4 separate regions of the Homo sapiens genome follow, and all the other regions are reported to be linked to region 1. Evidence: microRNA targets listed by miRTarBase, many of them from high-throughput screens and not tested one by one. Region 1 holds a microRNA gene; each other region holds the end of a gene's coding sequence.
What was found. The annotated mature microRNA hsa-miR-7152-3p reads UCUGGUCCUGGACAGGAGGC and lies in region 1 at 1,606-1,625, shown strand. An mRNA with a match to its seed (bases 2 to 7 or 8) in the 3' UTR can be bound and repressed. Matches are read on the target gene's strand: a 7mer-m8 pairs with bases 2 to 8, a 7mer-A1 pairs with bases 2 to 7 and ends in A, and an 8mer does both.

Region 2: miRTarBase lists NFAM1 as a target of hsa-miR-7152-3p. The part of its 3' UTR that is shown has no 7-base or 8-base seed match.
Region 3: miRTarBase lists FEM1B as a target of hsa-miR-7152-3p. Seed matches in the 3' UTR shown: 7mer-m8 at 3,787-3,793.
Region 4: miRTarBase lists CX3CL1 as a target of hsa-miR-7152-3p. Seed matches in the 3' UTR shown: 7mer-m8 at 1,285-1,291.

What each region holds. Positions count from the first base shown.
Region 1 is chr10:71,789,176-71,792,175 of GRCh38, forward strand. It overlaps MIR7152 (microRNA 7152), which reads left to right and starts at 1,572; the gene lies at 1,572-1,625. It overlaps CDH23 (cadherin related 23), which reads left to right. Exons shown (of 70, transcript NM_022124.6): 46 at 1,113-1,238; 47 at 1,957-2,160. RefSeq lists an enhancer at 1,113-2,012.
Region 2 is chr22:42,382,732-42,390,192 of GRCh38, forward strand. NFAM1 (NFAT activating protein with ITAM motif 1) reads right to left here. Exons shown (of 6, transcript NM_145912.8): 5 at 4,258-4,347; 6 at 1-2,489. The coding sequence ends at 2,430. Among named protein-coding and RNA genes, the nearest start is that of LINC01315, 17 kb to the left of the region's middle.
Region 3 is chr15:68,290,776-68,297,183 of GRCh38, reverse strand. It overlaps FEM1B (fem-1 homolog B), which reads right to left. Exons shown (of 2, transcript NM_015322.5): 2 at 1,322-6,408. The coding sequence ends at 5,942. ITGA11 (integrin subunit alpha 11) reads left to right here. Exons shown (of 30, transcript NM_001004439.2): 30 at 1-652. Among named protein-coding and RNA genes, the nearest start is that of FEM1B, 16 kb to the right of the region's middle.
Region 4 is chr16:57,382,536-57,385,587 of GRCh38, reverse strand. It overlaps CX3CL1 (C-X3-C motif chemokine ligand 1), which reads right to left. Exons shown (of 3, transcript NM_002996.6): 3 at 544-3,052. The coding sequence ends at 2,556. Among named protein-coding and RNA genes, the nearest start is that of CX3CL1, 12 kb to the right of the region's middle. RefSeq lists enhancers at 917-1,076, 496-1,185, 1,186-1,876.

The DNA.
Region 1 (3,000 bases):
GTGCAGCTCCGGGAGATGGTGGGCTGGGGCTCCCGGGCCTCCTATGAGCACAAAGAAGCCACAGGTCTGGTTGGAAGAGACAGTCGTGGTCATTGTTCCCCAGGGTGGTCTGAGAGCTGCCCCACCATCCCTCAAGAAGGGCATGTAAGGTGTGAGGACTACCCCGGAGGGGAGTGGGTCCACCCCTCACTGCTCCCTCCACCCCAGGAGTGCAGGGCATCCCAGGGCCTTCTGGAAGCCCTGGGGAGCATCTATAACTAGAAGTGGGAGGTCAGGGGGTCCTGGGTAGGCCAGTGTAGCCCTCTCCCCACACACATGCACTGACCAGGCTCACCTCCCTCCAGAGGGACAGAATCTCCTCTGTGATGTCCCCTGAGGTGGCACCTGCACTCCTCCAGTCTCCCCAGCCCCTGTTCCTCATCTCTGGCTGGGCATCCCCCCTAGGTGAATTTCATTCTTAAACCTGTCTGTGTGTATGCTCACACATGTGCCCGTGTGTGTCCATACCAAGGCATGTGCGTGGGGTTACACATGTGCACAGACACATATAGGTACATGGGTGCCCACTGATGCGCTCGTGTGCAGACATGCCCACCTGCAGAGGCACACGAGTGCACAACCAGGGAATCCCAGGCCTGTGCGTGCTCCTGGACAAGTGCCTGTGGCCATGTGAACACAGAACTTGATGCACACATGAGTGGGTTTTTCTAGTCATGTATGGCCAGGCCCCCAAAGGCAGAGCATTGTGTGAACACATGTGTTGACAGGCGAGACCCACACATGGGGAGGGGATGTCAGGGAGCCCCAGACCCTCCCGAGGAGCGGCCAGCCTCAAAGGCTGCTGGGAAGGCAGATGTGGCTCTGGGCAGCCGGGGCCTTGCTCACCACTCTCATGTTTTCTCCCCAGCAGGGCTTTGAGGCCGCTCCCCAGGCATCTGCGTTCAGTCTGCCAAGGCTGCCGCAGGCCCGCCCCCAGGGCCTCCCCACCCTGTCCACCTCACCTCCCTCCCCTCTCATCCATCGTCAGCCATGGCTCACCGGGACAGGGCAGGGGAGGTGGGAGGGCAGGGGGCTGGGTTGGTCTTGTGGTGACCCCTCTCCTTCTGGCCCAGGCACCCCTCTCACGGTGCTCAATGGGCCCATCCTGGCCCTGGATGCAGACCAAGACATCTACGCCGTGGTGACCTACCAGCTGCTGGGTGCCCAGAGTGGCCTCTTTGACATCAACAGCAGCACCGGTGAGGCCTCTGTGCCACCCAGCACTCCCAGCCTGATTCTGGGGTGGGGATGGCCACACTGCTGGATTGAGGGCCTCCCTTCTCAGTGCTGGACCCAGGCTGTCCGTGGAGACCCCATTTTTCACAGCCCAGAGTCCCCATCTTGCAGCTGGGTTATATCACCCAGTGGCCTGGCAGGGGGACGTGGGAAGAGGCTTGGAGACGATACACAGGACCTCTGTTGGTGCACGAACTCTCAGCCTGGGCCGGGAGCCCCCCAGCCCACTCCCGTCATCTCCCCATGCGCAGGCCAGAGGCTCAGGCCCCTAGTCCAGCAGAAGTAGCCAGAGCGACTTTCCTGTCCTCCAACCAGACCATGCCACATCCGTCTGGTCCTGGACAGGAGGCCGCTTTGGTGACAGGTGCCGACAGGAAAGCACATCTGTCAACAGAGACGGTCAACCCTGTGCCCTGGGTCACTCTTCCCAGGCAAGAGTCTTGAAGACAGCAGAGGGCACCTGCAGAGGGGACAACCACAGGAAATGCATGGGGCCCTCCCTCAGCACGGGTGGTTGAGCCTGTGGGGGAGAAAGTCATTTTGTTACTGCCTCTGCTCCTCTTTCATCTCTGTCCCATGGTGCCCCTGTCTTTCTCTGCTCTCTCCCTGTTGGTTCTTGCCCTGTCTTCCCACCGCACCCCTTTTCTGTGTGTTTCCCTGGCTGGCGGCACCGGGTGCCAGGTGTGGTGACCGTGAGGTCAGGTGTCATCATTGACCGGGAGGCATTCTCGCCACCCATCCTGGAGCTGCTGCTGCTGGCTGAGGACATCGGGCTGCTCAACAGCACGGCCCACCTGCTCATCACCATCCTGGATGACAATGACAACCGGCCCACCTTTAGCCCTGCCACCCTCACTGTCCATCTGCTAGAGAACTGCCCGCCTGGTAAGCAGGGGACAGGCCCCAGCACCCCACAACCAGGGGCCGGTTGGTGGTCACAGGGGACTGGAGCCTCAGGTTGGACACGGAGTTTGCCTCCAGTGGGGAGAAAGATGGGCAGCAGGGTGAGTGTAGAACACACTGGAGAGGGAGTCAGGAGACCTGGGCCCCTGCTTCCCTCCTCTGAGCTTCTGTATCTTGCCTGCAAAACAAGATTCTTTTTTCCTTTCTTTCTTTTTCTTTTCTTTTCTTTTTTTTTTTTTAAGACGGAGTTTTGCTCTTGTTGCCCAGGCTGGAGTGCAATGGCACAATCTCGGCTCACTGCAACCTCAGCCTCCCAGGTTCAAGTGATTCTCCTGCCTCAGCCTCCCGAGTAGCTGGGATTACAGGCGCCCACCACCACACCCAGCTAATTTTTGTATTTTTAGTAGAGACGGGGTTTCACCCTGTTGGCCAGGCTGGTCGCAAACTCCTGACCTCAGGTGATCCACTCGCCTCAGCCTCCCAAAGTGCTGGGATTACAGGTGTGAGCCACCACGCCTGGCCTACAAGATTCCTAAGTATTCTCCATTTGAATTCCCAGATGGAAAGACTGACTATTTTAAAGTCAAAATAGGATCAACATGATTCCCATCAAAATCAAATATAACTTCTGGAAGAATAAGAAAATTTTGAAAAACATAAGTATAATAAGCCAGATTTGGCTTACCAGATTTTATAACATATTATAAAGCTACAGTATTTAAGGCCATGCAATATGGGCACAAGACTCCAGGACAAAGTAGCCCAGAAACAGATACTGGTAAATTAAAGAATAAAATATGATGTGATAAAGGAAGCAATGAG
Region 2 (7,461 bases), not on the chromosome of region 1:
AACATTCTTGCCCCACCCTCCCTTGGGCCAAAGCCCTTTAGGGTCCCGTCCTTTCATGCTGTGCTCTCCTCCTCCTCCTCCTCCTCCCTGCCTCTCTCCTTGCTCACTGAAGACCTCAGCACCCACTGCCTCCCAGCCTTGCCCTGAACCAAGCACAGACGACCACCACGCTGGCAATGTCTCTGTCCACCAGAGGGGTGATGGGTCAGCCCCCAAGAACCTCCTACGCCACAGGGAGGAGTTGGAATTTTATTCCAAGTGAGGCAAAAACCATGCAAGGTATAGAGCAGGGGAGGCCAAGGCCAGGTGTGGGTTTAATCGGGGTCTGTCGGTGGCAGGGCAGCTGCAGGGAGGCCGTGTTGGTGATGCCTGGGCCAGGGCACAGTGGTAAAGTTTAACCCAGGCTCCCCTGTCTACCCCTGAAAAAGACTGGAAAATGCTGAGTCCCAGCCAAGGGTCCAGGGTCTAGGAGCTGAGGTCAGAGAGGCCCAGGAGGTGGGGGAGGCAGGCCCAGTGAGGTGGCCCTCTCCTGGTCTTGCTGGCTTCGGTTTTCCCAGGGGAGCTCACTGCACCCTGAGCGGCATTGTCCCCCATTGCCCTGACCCTTGCCCCCACCTCCTTGGCTGGTGGAGCCAGGAGCCTGGGAGGCCCCTGTGCACACCTGGCAGCTTCACCTCCCCAAACAGGCCCGGAGTTCATTCAAATCCAGCCTCTGGGAGCAGGGGCCTTGCCACTCGGTTATGTGAGCCTGCTAAAGCCCTCCTTGCCATGTGTGCTTGCAGGCGGGGGCCCAGAACCAAGTTGGGAGGCCACTGGCTGTCCTGTGGGACCAGAGAAGTCTGGTGCCACCCTAGCAGGGCCAAGGGACTTCTTCTGGACGTCAGTCTGTGCCCAGCCTCTACCACCAGCTTTCCCTTCCCTGCAGGGAGGGGCATGACCTGCAGAACCAAAGGTGCTTCTGTGAGCCAGTAGCCCAGTGCTGCTTGGGGGCAGGGGCGGGGCCTGTGCCTTGGGTTCCCCCCCCTCCCTGGGCACATTTGGGGTTGGGGCAGCCCACACGGTGGGGTGGGAAGATTGACCTGCCCATTTTACAAATGAGCAAAGGTGGGAGAACTCAGGGAGACATGGGGGAGCAGAGGGAGGAAGCAGAGCCCAACAGCCCGGGGCACCCGGACCCCAGCCACTGCCTGCCTGTGGATGGGTTTCTGGCCACGGTGCAGGGCTACTGCGAGGAGGAAATGAGGGTGATGTGGGCACCTGAAACAGCAGAAATGGCTCAGGGCCAGGCACTGGGGAGCCACTGTCCCCATGGGGCTTGAGCTTCTGCCTCAGAGGGACCTTCCGGCTGCCATTGAGGGTCCCAGCACCAAACCCCACAGCTGGACCACTTGGGACCTCAATCCACAGGGGGCCAGGGCTGCGGCCTATGGCAGATAAAGATAGAGGAGGAGGGCTGGATGAAGCCACAGGTGGTGGGCACAGGATAGGCCAGACAGAAGGGACTTTGGGGGACTCCACCTTGGGTAGAAGGAGGGACAGCTGAGGTCCTGTGGTGGAGAAGGCCTGGAGCAGAGGGTGACCAAGGAGATGACAGAGTGCACGTACAGGGCCAGGCCAATGGGAGTGGGAACCCTTGGGAGAGGGAGCTTCAGGCCATTCATTCAGTTCCTGTTTAGCCAGCACCCTCCTCCCCTCATCTGTCCCTCTGCCCTCACCCCAACATGCCAGAATCTCCTTCCTCTCCAGCTTGTACCCAAGCCCTCTCTGCTCCATGCCCCCAGCCTGCTGACCACCTCTCAGCCATGTCCTGGGCCTCCAGATCTGTCCCTGATCCTAGTCTTGCCTCTGAGGGGTCCATCATCCTTGTCTGTCCCCCAGACCTCCCACGCCAGCCCCTGCTCCCACCCTGCCTGGCTGCCTCGTGCCTCTGGCCCAGCTGGGTAGGTAGGGATTTGCATAGCTGCTCCCCAGCTCCTCCATACCTCGGCTCCCCACACAGCACTGCTAGGCGCCCCTGCAGGGTCCTCCCTCAGCTCAGAGGCTGCCCTACTGGCTGAGGTGCAGGCTGGTGCCAAGAGAGCATGCTGCTCTGTCAGCATGAGGCAGTGAGCAGGGCTCTGGGCAAGGGTGGCATCCAGGAAAGCCCTTGAAGACTGAGGGGCGCTTTGCTGGTTGGGCCAAGGGAGGAAGGGCCTGCCTGGCAGAAGGAACAGCCTGGGCAAAGGCCCCAAGATGGGAAAGCCTTGGTGGTTGGGGCATAGAATGGGGGGGCAGTGGGGCCGGCCAAGACAGGAAGGGCCTTGAATGTGAGGGTGAAATGATGGGGTGTCCCTGGGGGCCTTACTCCCAACTCAGATCAAGTCCTTTGGTGGCAGGGGCTGCCCCGGTCCTCTGACCCAGGGCAAGCTCTATGAGCGGTGGAGCCCATCCTAGAGATTTTCATAGACCAGGTTAAGTTCGCCATCATCTTCGAATCTATGCGGTCTCTCCTGGATAGAAAAGAAGAAAGGGAGGGAAGGAGAGAAAGAGAGAGAATGACCATTAAGAATGAACTTGCACTAATTTAGTTTTAGCCAGAGGGCAACAGATCACTTCCTGTGTAGCTTTGATGGGGGGCCTGCCCTCTGTCTCCAAGCCCACCTCCCCAGCCTCTTCCCCCACCATGCTGCCCCCACCCCTGCCCATTGCCCTCCAGCCACATGGGCCTGCCCTTCCAGCCTCAGAGCTTCCCCCACAGCTCTGCCCTCTGCCTTCTGCCCTATGTGTGGGATGCGCCTCCTCCCACAGACACACCTGTTCCATGACTGCCCCCTACTCACTCTGCCTGCGGGCTCATCATAGGGTCCCAGGGACCCCCTCCCTCCCTCCCCACCCTGGCTGGTCCCTCCCAGAAGAACACCCCTCACAACAGGGCTACAAATGCCTCTGTGTGTCCATGGGGTCAGCGACCTATTCCTGCAGACTATGGCTCCCAGAGGGTAGGGACATGCCTAGTTCTCCTGTCCAGCACCCCAGGGCCTGGCACAGGGTGGGCACTGCCGGAGATGTCCCTGCTTTCACTCAGGGTCTAGTTGAGGGCTGAGTATAGAAAGGGCTTTGAGAACAGGCGATTTAACAAATAGTGCCAGCCCGAGCCAGAGAAGGCCAAGTGCCAGGCGCCCGCACTCCCTGACAGATGTTCCAAGAGGCCTGTGGGCTCCTGTTCTGGCTGAACAACGCCTCACGCTTGACGGTGCTGGAAGCTCTGGTGCAGATGTTATTCAGCTTGGAACACATTTGAATTCAGAGGCAGTTGGTATTGCAGGAAAACACTGCTCATCCACTTTACAGATGAGCAAACAGGTTTAAGAGAGAAAGTATGGGCCGGGCGCGGTGCCTCACACCTTTAATCCCAGCACTTTGGGAGGCTGAGGTGGGTGAATCATGAGGTCAGGAGTTCGAGACCAGCCTGGCCAACATGGTGAAAACCTGTCTGTACTAAAAACACAAAAAATTAGCTGGGCACAGGGGCGGGCGCCTGTAATCCCAGCTACTCGGGAGGCTGAGGCAGGAGAATTGCTTGAACCTGAGAAGTGGAGGTTGCAGTGAGCTGAGATCGCGCCACTGCACTCTGGCCTGGGTGATGGAGCAAGACTCTGTCTCAAAACAAAAACAAAAACAAACAAACACACACACACACACACACACACACACACAAAACAAAAACAAAAAAAAAGAGAGAAAGTATGATTGGGTAATATGCCTGAGGCCCTATCATGACAATCACAGAACCCTGACCAGGCCAGCCCAGCTTCTACCAGCTCACACTCTAGCTCCAGACTTTAGCCAACACCAACCTGGGGGCAGCTGGAAGCCTAACACCCCTGTCTGACTGACCATGTGGACACTGTGCCCAGTGATAGTTACAGTGGCTCATAGTGCATGGGCACAGCTGGGTCCCAGGCAGCTCTCTCAGTACATTCTACCCTCACTGAACATCTATGAGGTGGGTACTGTTAGGTTGCTCAATCTGCACACAAGGAGATTCAGACACAGAGAAGTCAGACACCTCGGCCAGGGCTGCACAGTGGCTAAGGGACAGAGCAGGAACTCAAACGCACCAGTCCTCTTAACCAGCAGGCCAGCTGCCACCAGGAGATGGCTGGGATTCCACAGCAGGTGGCTCACTTCCATGTCCCATTTGCCCCCCCACTTCACCAGTGATGGGAGGGTCAGATGGAGCAAGAAGCCAGGCTTGGTGCCCCAGCGCCTGTGTACCTGGGAGAGGGGGCTCTGCTTGGCGGTGGGTGAGCTGCCATCCTCATTCTCGATGCAGGCATAGACCTCGGTCTCGCGGCGCTGCAGAGCCTACAGGAAACGGGGTGCCAGGATCAGGGGCAAGTGTGTAGAGGGGCAGTCCCTGGCCCCAGCAGCCAGCCCCCTGCCTGTTACACACCCCACCGTGGGAGCCCAGGGGAGGGTGAAGCCCAGCCACACCTTTGCACCTGCCACCCCCTTTCCCAGAGTCACCTTTCCCCTTCCCTGCCTGTAAAGGGCTGACCCCTCTCTGTTCTCGGCCACCTCCCTAACCTCCCTTAAGGACCTCCAGTAGAGCCTTGTATTCCACCTGGAGGGTTCTATCCAGGCTTCCACCTGGCTGGCAAGAGAAAGGGCCAGGCCTCCTCCTGCTGTCCCTGCCTGTCCCTAGGCTCTTAAGGGCTTGGCAGCCAGCAGCCCCCTGCATGATACCTGTGGCCACTGCTCCAATAGGATGCCCCCATGACCTCTGCCTTCACCCCCCTGTTCAAAGCCCCGGCCCCTGTGAGGGTCCTCCCACCCACCCATACCCTCTAGCTCTCCCCAACCCCCACCCCAGCCTGTATTCAAGGATAACCCAGGCACCCACTGGGGTCACACTCCCTGGTCATCGAGCCTGTGCCCTGCTGGGGGATTCCAGAGTCCAATCCTGGTTCTCAGCACACCCCTCATCCCCCTTGCCTGTCACTTTCCTTTCATTCCCCTCAGCCACCCCTCCTGGGCCACCTGGGCTGCTGTCATCACCCATATGCGCCTCCCTGGAGGTCTCAAGCTCCTGCCACCCACTCTCTGACCACGGTCCCCCCATAGCCCAAGCCTCCTCCCAGGAAGCCCGAGTCAGTATTGAGCTCAGCTGGGCTTGGAGGCCCTGTCCCTGGCCTCACGGCTCCTGCACTGGGTCATGTCGGAGTCCTGCTCCCACCAGCATCTCACCAGATGGGAACCCCTTGAGGGCAGGGACCATGCCTAGTCTATCTCTGGGTTTCTGATTCTACAGCTGTGCTTGGCACAAAGGGAGCAGCACCAAATGAGCTATGGTAAGGGGGCTTCCCCGTCACTCGGGTGTGTCCTAGGCCCACTCACTCTTGGCCCAGCTAAGAAAGGCCTAGCCAGAGACCTCAGGATGGTAGAAAGAACCGGGGCTTTAAAGTCAGACAAGAGTAGGTTCGAATCTCGGCTCTGACTGCGCCAGCCAAAGGCAACCCCTTAACCGCTCCATGCCTCAGTTTCCACGTCTGTAAAATGGGAATAATCACATCTATTTTGCAGGTTCAATGCATGATTAAATGAGATACTGTGCACAAAGGGCCACACACACAGTCAGGGAAGTAGTAGGTGCTTAATAAACTGCTGTTGAATGGTCAAGAGAAGCATGAGGCCTGCCCACCTCCCCTCTCTGGGATCACAGACCAGACCCTCCCTCAGAACCTGTTGGACTCCGGAGCAGAGCCCACCAACAGCCTAAGCAAGAGCAGAAGCCTTTCCTTCCTGAGTGTACGTGTCATATGGATGCCGGCTGGTTGCCAAGGAGGCGGTTTCCCTGGCAACAGGCAAGCAGGGGTTGCTGAGGCAGGCTGGAGAGACAGGTGGTGCTCAGAGGCAGGAGGAGGGCGGGAGGCGGGAGGGAAGGAGGGAGGGAGGCAGGCGCCAAGAGGCAGCTGGGCATGAAAATCCAAGTAATAAACCATTTGGCACTTGGGAGACCCTCACTTCAAGGGCATCAGACATGGGGATGGTGGGGCGGCCCTGAGGACGAGTTCAAGGGGTCTCTGAGCCAGAAACAGGCTGGGTCTGGGGAGAGGGGCTTCCAACCTGCTTCCTTGTAGGAAAGGGACCAGGGCTGCCCCAGGAAGAAGCCTCATTTGGAATGGAGGGAAACTTCCAAGTCCTGCCCTGCCTTGTGCGGCCTTCGTGCCTGTCCGGAGCACCAGCCACCCCAGCTGGTCTGGCACCCAGGATGGGAATGTTCCTCTGTGGTCCTGTGCCCCCAACCCTCCACCCACCCAGGCCCAGACCCCTTCTAAGTCTCACAGATCTGACAGTCTCTCTGAGCTGGATGATTCTGGTCACAGAGAAAAGGGAGGGGAGCAGTCTCCTTGCCCATGTCTCGGCAGGGGAGTAGATCTGGGGTTCCCTCTCCCTCCTGTCCAGCTCAGCCGGGCTGCCCAGAACACATGAGCCCAGAGAGGGCAGGTGATGCAGGGCCAGAGAAGACTAGCCTGCCCTGGGATGCTGCAGGCCCCCAACCCATACAGTGGGGGAGTCGGGGAATAGGCGAGTGGGCGGTGGTGCAGTGGGCAGGGCAGGAGCAGCTGCGGGGCTGAGAACAGGGGAGGCTGCGGAGGTGGCCACCAATTAGCAGCTGCTGAGTGAGGCCTTGACAAGTCCTGACCCGCTGGGTGCATTTATATGCAGGGTATGACCTGCATCACCAGGCTGTGAAATGCAGGGTGCAGCCTTGGCAACAGGACACCCTTTGAGCTCCTGAACCATCCCCTCCTGGCCCTCCCTTAGGTATGCCTGCTGGGAGATTGCACAGGCCTTGGAATGGGCCACTTGTGGGGCTGGGGCTGGGCTGGGCTGGGGGTTGGGGGCTGGGGTCTGGGAGGGTGCTGGGCTGTGGCTGGGCTGGGTGTTGGGGGCTGGGGGGCTGGGCTGGGCTGGGCTGGGGGCTGGGCTGGGCTGCGGCTGTTTGTCTGGGATCCAGGCCCCCCAGGCCCTTTGCCTCCTGCTGCCCAGTGGGCAATGGTGCTGACCCCAGTGATCATCCAACTGGCAGAGGTGTGAAGTCAATGCTGAGGCCTTCTCCAGGCAGGCTGAGGCCAGAGCTGAAGTTAGTGTCCCTGGGCCTGGACCTAGTCTGAGAGTCCTGGGCATTGGGGGTGATGGGTGAGATCTGGGGGTGTTGTTCGGGAAGGAACACACTCCGTGGAGAAGCAATTCAGCTCTAGACCAGGCAGTGGAAATGGGGAGCCCCTGAAGGCTTTCCTCACCATGCATCAGAGTCGTGTGTTAGAAAGGTCCCTCCGGCAGCAGCTCAGAGCAGGAACGGGAGCAGGAGGGCCTGGAGGCTGAGAGTAAGATCGAGGATGCTGGGCCAGGCTGGGCTGGGACAGAGCCGCCGGGTGGGTGGGGGTTCTGAGTACTGCTGCTGAATGAGGACGC
Region 3 (6,408 bases), not on the chromosome of region 1:
TGAACCCAGGAGTTCAAGACCAGCCTAGGCATCATGGCAAAACCCCATCTCTACAAAAAATACCAAAATAAAAAGAATTAGCTGGGCATGGTGGCACATACCTGTAGTCCCAGCTACTTGGGAGGCTGAGGTGAGAGGATCACTTGAGCCCGGAAGATCAAGGCGACAGTAAGCCATGATGGCACCACTGCACTCCAGCCTGGGTGACAGAATGAAACCCTGTCTCAAAAAACAAACAAACAAAAACCAAACAAATTATAGGAAAATCAACATTTTAAACCAAAGAAGAGAAGGAGAAAGAAGGGAAGGGAAGCCATAAAAGTGTCTTTTTCAAATAGATCATGGGGGAAAAAAAAAAAAAGTATGACTTGGAATAGAGACAGCCTTACAAGCAGGATCTAAAACTCAGAATCCATTTTTTTAAATTGTGATAAATTTGACTATAGAAAAATGTAAACTTTGGATACAAAAGTACCATATTTAAAGTAAATAAGCTACAACTATTACATGACAGAGAAAATGTCCTCAAACTTCTAAGGAACTTCTAACAAGTAGAAAAAAAACACACACAACCCCAAAGCAAACACCAATAGTCAATAAATATATGAAAGTGTTCAATGTTACTCATAATAAAGGCATACAAATCAAACCATGAAATGCTATTTTTCATTAATCACAACTTTGCAAAAATTAAATGATTAGATCTGATGTCAATAAAGATGTAGAGAGATGGAAGGCAATTTGATAACTTCTGTCAAGATTTTAAGTAGTCACTAAACCAAGTTCCAGTACTAGGAATGAATTTGTCCTTTAAGTATGGTACTTAAGGATGTTGACTGCAGCATTATTTGAAATATCAAAAACTGAAAATCTAAAAGTCCATCAATAAAATCTAGTTAAATACATTTTCAATCCATCAACAGAATTAATTGCTATGAAGTTGTTTTAAAAACCTATACATATAGAAATGGAAAATGCCTAAGATATATTACATGAAAAAGATAAGATACAGAATAGCGTTGCAAAGGTAGAAGTTCATTTGCATTTTAAAAACTGAAAAGGAGAAATAATACATATGTGCACAGAAACATTCTGGGAAGCTACTCAAAAAACTATTAATAGTGATTGTCTCTGCAGAGTCCAAATAGGAGGCGGGGAGAGATGAAAAGGGAACTTTTAAAATATATATTTGAATTTTTCTTTACTACGTGAATTTTTTCCCATGCACATATATAACTTTGACAACTTTAAGGCACTCAACAAAAGAACATCGCAACTAAGGCACACTGAATAATTAATAAAGACACAAACCTCAAAGTAGTTTTTTTCAAACATTTACTGAACACAAACACCATTTTTTCCTTTTACACAGCAAGATTGTTAGTTTCAAATTAGCTGAGTTATTAGGACTGTCAATTGCCATGAAACTAAAAATGACTCTACATGTCAAACTCAAATAGAAAATGTCATGCAATATATAAATCACTAATGGACCTCTGGTGCAGTCAGCAAGTTTACTATGTTTATTAAAGTCACATAAATGGTTTGACAAAAGTGCACAATAGAATGACATCACCGGTTTGTTATAAATCACAGTGAATTACTAGAATACAACAGTGTAGTTCCTCTGCACGGAGGATTGCAGGATGGGGTGAAAAGGACAGGGTCTTTTCCATCGATTAGGCCAGTCAGATTTTACTCCCCAACTGTGTACCTTTGAAAAGACTGTGAGGAAAGCTGAGTTTCTTTCCTCATCTTTTCTCCTCTACCAGTTACTAAGCAACAACAACAAAAAGCCATGCACAAATTTTACAACACCTGATAAAAAATAGATACAAAATCTTGTTCATTTCATCATTTGGCAAGCTTGCATCTTCGCTCCTTCACTTTTCTGATTAGGCCATTCATCACATGACTCACCCTGAATAAAAGCTGTAAATAATTTAGCAATACTTACCCCTATACACACATCAAGATACACTCCCCATAACCATCAAGTCACTGTCTCTTCCCTACACATTAACACAAAGGTACACACCACAAACCTAGAGACCACATTTACTTTACAGTTTTAAAAATTAATATATCTCCACTATCAATAGTGTAGTATTTATTTCAGATCCCTTATTTGGGGGAGGGCATGCTGTATAACCCAGCCCATCTAAAGATTTGGGCAAGTCTGCCAGAAATACATAAGAAAGCCCTGCAATGTGATAAACACATAGGAGTTTTCTACTTTCAAGAGATGACATCCAGAACAAAGCTATGCATTTTCAGAGTAGGAATGGACACACAGCTTAAAACCTCTGGACTAAAAATATTTCATAGCACAAAAGGCAGAGTTTTGTTTTCTTTAACCCCTTTTTAATGTTATATAGTCAGTGAGAAAAACAGAATAGTCATGTGTGCATCAACACATCTAATTTGAAAAGGAACATTTAAGATTCTTACAGAAAATCTATCATAAAAAACAAGTCCTTTATACTTTCATTCATTTACTCACTAATTCAGCCACTGGCTGTTTCTAAACCAGCAAACTAATCAAAGGTCTGGCAACTCACTCCTCATCCCACCCCATTCCAAAAAAAAAAAAGAAACGCTTCTGCTTAAATAACCCAAAGTGGTCTTATTCATAAAGTAGCTGCCTCAACTATAGTGAAAACTCTTAACAGGGTGTTGCTCACTTGAAATTTTAATTTTCAAAACATTTGTCAAACAGAGTTGGTATTTAGAAAGCTGCTGCCCCCAAATCATATTTTACTTCAAACAATGTTATCATACCTAAGTTCTCACAATTACCAATTATTAGTCCACTATTAGTATAATGAAATAAAACCCTTCTCAGAAACAAGCAGACCAAAGCTTACAGATGGTCTGCTTTGGGGTTTGGTTTATTTAAAATTCCCACAGCAAAGAACCTTAACGTGATTGGGCTGTGGGCTACTAGAGCAACCAGGGTGGACTGAAAAAGCTATGTTTTCAGTGTCAGTTCTAATGTAAAAATGTTCCCCTTCTTTATCAATCGAGGGGATGGGTTTGCCGCCCATTCCTTGAGTTAAATAGTTAACTTCATAGTTCAATTTTGCCAACTCTATCAAGTGCATAAAACCCACTTAAGTTTCTCATGATTTGCGAATGAAAACATCCACCTGGGCCTCCCTAGCTCATCCAGATTTATATAACAATTACTGAACAGGACAGAGAAGTTTTGGTTGAATCTGTAATACCATCAATGAAGATTTACAATTCAAAGCATAAGTATACCAATAGTAAACATCAAATGACCAAAGTGGCTGCAAAATGGAGACAGCCTAGAGTTCACAGAGGGCTGAGATATAGAACTATCATTTTCTTACCTATTTTCCTTTTTTAAAAAAAAATTAAGTTGGGGAAGGGTCTGGCTAAACATATTTTCAAACAATTCTACCAAAAACATTTTAAAAAAACAGGCATGTAGATCACTTATTTCAAAAATGATTTTATACAGGTGTTTCACAATACACATTTGGATTGATTTTACAAGATAGAATTAGATTCTCAGCAAGATACTACACAATTTACCACTATACTAAACAAACAAAAAATCTAATTACCATTAGCATAGTTCATAGTTTATTCCACTGTCTTCAAATTCGTTCTCCACCCTGTCAGCATTTCAATCAACAGTTTTACTTTCTTCAGCATTGTCTTCCCTTCTCAAAATAGAATGTCATTAAATTTTGATGTCTGAATATGTACATATAATCATTATTCTCATTTTATAAATAAGCAGTGTCTTAAATAGTGCTGGTCCTGGGTAGCCAAAGGGATGAAATGTGTTTTTAAAACATGCAACATTATCTGATATTTTAAGTTTTGATGTTTAAATAAAAATAATATACATTAATAATGGAACCAACTGAATACCAAGTATCAAAGCTATTCCTTAGACTGTCCAATAAGCAGGCCTTGTAGTTTGAAAAATAAAGGGTCTGATCTGAACTGTGGAAAAAGCATGATTCACTCACCTTGAAGAAGTGCATTTTCTCTTTCAGGCCACTGAGAGTTGCTAAGAGCAAGGTACAGTATTTCCTTGATTCATACCAGGAGGATCAAGTCTGGTAATTTTCAAATTAGGGCTCACTCAAATAAATACCTCCATTTAAGCCAACCTAAAAACCTTCCTTGTAAAATCTCAGGTTAGGAAAATAGGTATCTATTACCATGACAGAATTTACCATCAAAACCTTCCTAACTGAAGCAAGAAGACAAAGTATAATGATAGCAACTGTAAAAAGTATCTTGCATCCTTGGGGGATAGTCCCCCCTTCTGTCCCCTCCCATCCTTCAAAATATTTCATTTTGTGGGGTATCTCTATTTTATTTAAGGCCCTAGGGTGCTGATTTTGGCTTGGTCATTGTTTTATACTGATCCAACTGCAACCTTTCTCTTACACTTTACAAAGCATTATCCATATATAAAATGTTAATTGAAACCTTTTTTTTTAAGTTTATATCTGATGCTGCTACATCATTATAATGCTTTTCATTAAAGAAAAAAAAAAAGCTACAGGTCTTCACTTACAGTACCATGCACTATGAGTAGCTAAGGCATTCATTTGGCACTAGAGAGAAAATTACAGATACAGCTAATTTTGCTTTCATTATCATTTTTAACATCAATAGAAATAAGCATATAACTTTCACTTGAATTTCTGTAATGCTTAAAAGATAATCACAGAATACCCTTTTAGTTTGACAGTTACAATGTTGCCATTAAAACAAAACAAAAAAACCATAAAGACCTCTGTATAGCCTGTAGGAATAAGTGACATTTTGTGGTTGAAAAATTTGCAGCTCTCAGACACAATTACCTTTCAAGTGGCATTGAGAATTATTTTCATCATAAAAAACATGTAAGTTCCTATACCACACTAGTGATATTTCTACTTCTTGTCACAGACTAAGAAAGTGAAAAAATTCAAACATATCCTGGTTCCTTTTCATCTGTCATAAGTAAAATACCTTATTAGGGAGGCATAAATAATGCCTTCTGGAAAAGTAGTTTCCAAATTTTAAAAGATACAGGAGAAAAAGGGAAAAGGGGACAAAAATAGAATGTATAACTACACTGTGACAATTTGTTTCATAAGAAAACAGCATTCATAATTTTTACATGTCTATGAGCTGAATCAAATAGACTGCTGCAATTTAGATAAATTTCATTAAAATAGACTTTGAAGAATTCAAGCCTAAAGGCAGAGTCCATCAAGATTCTCTGAAAAGTTGGTTTAAGATGATAACCATTTTGTATATACTACCCAGCATAATGCAACAATTTCAAATGGATTTAAATTTATAAATTTGTAACTATTATTAAATTAGCACATTTTCCAGATTAATCTGCAGCTATTTTTTAAAAATCCTCCTGAATGCTAAAATGTGCTGCATCACTCCGTATAAATAATGGAAGAGTGTAAACTATCTACAGCAGTTTGGCATGTGCAGAACACCTGGATATCCCATTCCTCTTAATGTTCCTTTTTAGCTCTTTTTCTTCATAAAATCCTCAAAACTGCTGCATGGATAACATGCTGACATAGGCTTAACAGAAATACTTTTGTAAGCAGCTGTTTAAAACATTATCAACTTGAAATTATAAATGTCCCTTGTTACATAAACAAAACATTTTATATCTGTTCCTTTAAAAAAAAGAAAGACAAATAGGTAACCAATATGCAAATACCTTATAGTTACACCAAAACAATGTGGTTTTGTTAAAGTCTGTCTGAAATCAATTACCATGAGGCAAGAAAAACAAATACAGAACTAAGGAAGGATGGGATGGGAGGAAGGGTAGTGGAAAGAAAAGCAGAATTTATGAACACATAATTCTACTGTCTGTGATTAAAAGTCCTTTACTTTTTAGCACCACATTAAACGACTTTACATATCCAGTCACTTAATGAAATCCAACAAACTCTTCAAGAGTTCTGGGGATCTGGTCTTGGTAGTTAATGTCATTAGCCCGAACTGCTCGGGCAGCCAGGCACTTGAGACTCATCTTCATTTGAGTTTTAAGCAGTATTTCAGATACCCCAGTTGTACTTTTGTCTAGCGGAGTCTTATTCTGTTTATTCGTCATGTCAGTGTGAGCTCCGGCTTCAACTAGGCTAATGATGATGGAGTGCAAGGTCAAAAAATCACTGATGGGCCTGTTGTACTGAACGATAATATGAAGGGCACTGTTTCCCTCATTGTCCACGGCATTCACCTCAGCACCACAGTCCAGCAGGAGCTTTGTGACAAGTGCATTTGGAAAGCTGCAGACGTCATTGGTGTGGAAATCATCAACTGGAGTATTGGAATTGACAGCCAGATGCAGCAAGGTGAAACCTTCACGAGTTCTGGGATCAAGGTGAATCAGGT
Region 4 (3,052 bases), not on the chromosome of region 1:
TTATGAAGCTTCCCAGAACACTGAAGAGCTTAGGGGCCACCACGAGGCTCACACTTGGGGCACATCTATGAACTCCCAAGTCCCTTAAGAAGTAATCCCTCTTTGATCTTCATCTGAACCAGGAAGGCCACAAAGAGGAAACTATGGGCCAGTTTCCTCCCATGGGGCACCAGTTCACTGAGAGTGGTCCTAGGGCCCCTGGGATGGTGGTTCGGCAGGCATGGGGTAGGGCTTCATGAGGGATTCTGAGTCCTGCCAGACTAGGAGAGGCCTCACATTTATAAGACCCAGAGAGGTGAGGGCCCTGGCCCAACATCACACAGCCGGGCAGAACAGAGCTGGGCTGAGGGCTCGGCACTCCTCACTCTAATCCCTGGTGCTTCTTCTCTTGCTGACTGTAAAAATGTCTGCTTTTCTGCCCCAGGTGAACTGGAGATAGGGGTCTCCGGGGCTGAAAGGGGTCTTGCCCCCAGCCCTGCCCCACTCCTTCCCCTCCGAAGCCCTGATTGCTGCACTTGTCCCCAGAGAAATCACCCATATTGATTCACAAGACTTTTAAATTTTATTAGTAAAATACAAAATGGCACAGACGTTGGTGATGAGGGTTGGAAAAGTCTTTCCAAAGTCTTCCTACTCTTTCCAAAGTCTTCCTAGATCATCCTTGTCCATGTCCTGCTTGGAGAAACTAACAAAGTCCATGGAAGGGGGACCAACTGGCCCCAGCGGCTTCCTCACAAAGGAGGCAGGGCCCCATCACAGGGTGTCCCACCCCTGGAAGGCTCTCCCAGCCTGGAAGAGCCAGAACAAAGTGCATTGGGCCCACTCCCACCCTCTCTGAGCTGCCAGAGTGACCCCACCTGAGCCAGGCCCTGAGCTTCCTGAATATGCTGCGCCACACCCAGCAGGGGAGTGCAGAGGCCAGGTGGGCAGGGCAGCACAGCGTCTTGCTCTCTATGGACCAGAGCTGGGTTTCCTTCCTCCAAGCACCCATCTGTGAAGGAGTGTTCCTAGCACCTGGGTAGAACCCAGCCCATAAGAGGCCCCTCAGGTAGACGGCAAGGGTCGGGGACAATCCAAGGGAGAGGTGAGCTGCCACCAGGGACCCTGAGGGGCCAGGCCAGCCGGTGCAGCCCCATCCAGGCATGCTCGAGCCTTCAGCAGCCAAAAAAGGGAACCCCTGACTTTATGCCTACAACTTCCCCTTTCCCATGTCCCAGCCCCCTTCCCGGGTAGCGTCCCTTTCAGAAACAAACAGGGGACTCATGGAAAACATCATGGAAATCCCTGGTCCTGTCTGCGGTGGGGACAAAGGTGAAGGAGAAGGTCTTGGAGGGCAGAGAACAGTGTTTTCAAGGAGTGAGAGAGGTGGGAAGGGAGCCCAGCCTCAGGAAAGAATCTGGCGTGTGTGGGGTGGGACCACAAGGGTCTTGTGGCCTGGCTGCCTGCAGGAGTCTCTGAAGAAGCATCAGGAATGTGGCTGCTCCTGGAGCCTTTCCTGGGCTTCTTGGACATGTGTCTGGAGCCCTCCCTCCCTCTTAGCGGGTGATGGGAGGCAGAGCCCGGGCTGTCTCAGTGACTAAGCCTGGGCGGGGCCTTCAGGGATGGTCTCTGCTCTGCCCATTTCCATTTGGGGGCCCACAGGGCAGGGTCTGTGCTATCAACTCACTCCCTTGCAGGCCCTCTGGGCCTCAGGGTCCAAAGACAAGTTAGTCCATTGGCAGGGACTGTCTAAGGTGCTCTGCTGGTAAGGACTGTGAGGCTGCATCCAGGGGCTGGAGAGAAGGGCCTCAGGTCAATGAGTGTTGTCAGGGGGACAGGTATTCCTTACCTCCCTCTTTCCTTTCACAGATGGGAGTATGTTGGTGGCTTGATGGTGGAACTAGGATCAGAACCCAGCCTTCAGACTCAGCACAGTGTAGACCAAAGAGGAAAGTCACCAGATACCCTTATCTCCCCTTCCCACAATGCCTAACCAAGGGCAGAGCCTCACTGGAAGCAGTGCCAGGAAACACCACACTAGCCTCATGCAAGAAAAGACATGTCACCAGTGGGGGCGTGGGCTCTGTACAGAGGATGGGGCTGGGGGAGATAGCACCGCAGGTGGCCGGGGTGACTGGCAACTGCAGCAGGACCAAGAGACACAATCAGGTTGCAGGGAGTGGGCAGAGGGCCTGGCCTGATGCTCATGTGTGAGATGGGAGGACTGTAGTACTCACAGGGCAGCATGGGTCAGAAGGGGCTGGGCATTTAATAAATAATTGTTCATTGGGGCTGGGATGGCGTCAAAGGGAACCTCTAACCAGCCAGCAGCAGAGGAGAGTTTTGGGGCTGGGGTGAGTTGGGAGGCCACCCCCTCTGTCCCTGGCAGGTGGAGAATGGTCAAGGCTGGCCTCCTGGGGAATGCCTGGGAGCTTGGAGCTTGTGCACCTGGAGGATCCCACCTCCCCCCTCCAATCATCCCAGCTCAGGCCAGGCCCTTGGGTGGGGGTGGGTATGAGGATGAGGGATCCCAGGCAGCTGTCTGAATCAAACAACTAGACACAGGCCAGAGGAGTTCACACGGGCACCAGGACATATGAATTACTACCACAGCTCCGGGGGATGTAGCGAAGGCCCTCCGCCATCTCTCCTGCCATCTTTCGAGGGCAGCCCTGGAGGCTCTGGTAGGTGAACATGGCCACCCCCAGGCAGAAGAGGAGGCCAAGGAAGGCCAGCAGCCCCACCGCCTGCCTCCGGGTGGCAGCCTGGGCGTCAGGGACAGGAGTGATAAGGACGCCCAGCCTCTGGGGGTCCATGGTGGCATGGATGGGTTCCTCAGCCTTAGGGGTCCAGCTGCCTGAAGCCACTGGCTCCCTGCTGGGGGTCCCTTCTGAGGAGACAGGGACCACAGAGACGTGGGCCATGCTGCCAGGCCCCCAGTCCTGGAAGGCATCCGTGTGCGCTGGCACGGGACCCATCTCCTCCCGCTCCAGAGAGTTCTCTGGCCTGGGGCTCTGTCCCTGACCCCACACACGCTGGCCTTCAGACGGAGCATTCTCCTCTGGGGCTGGGG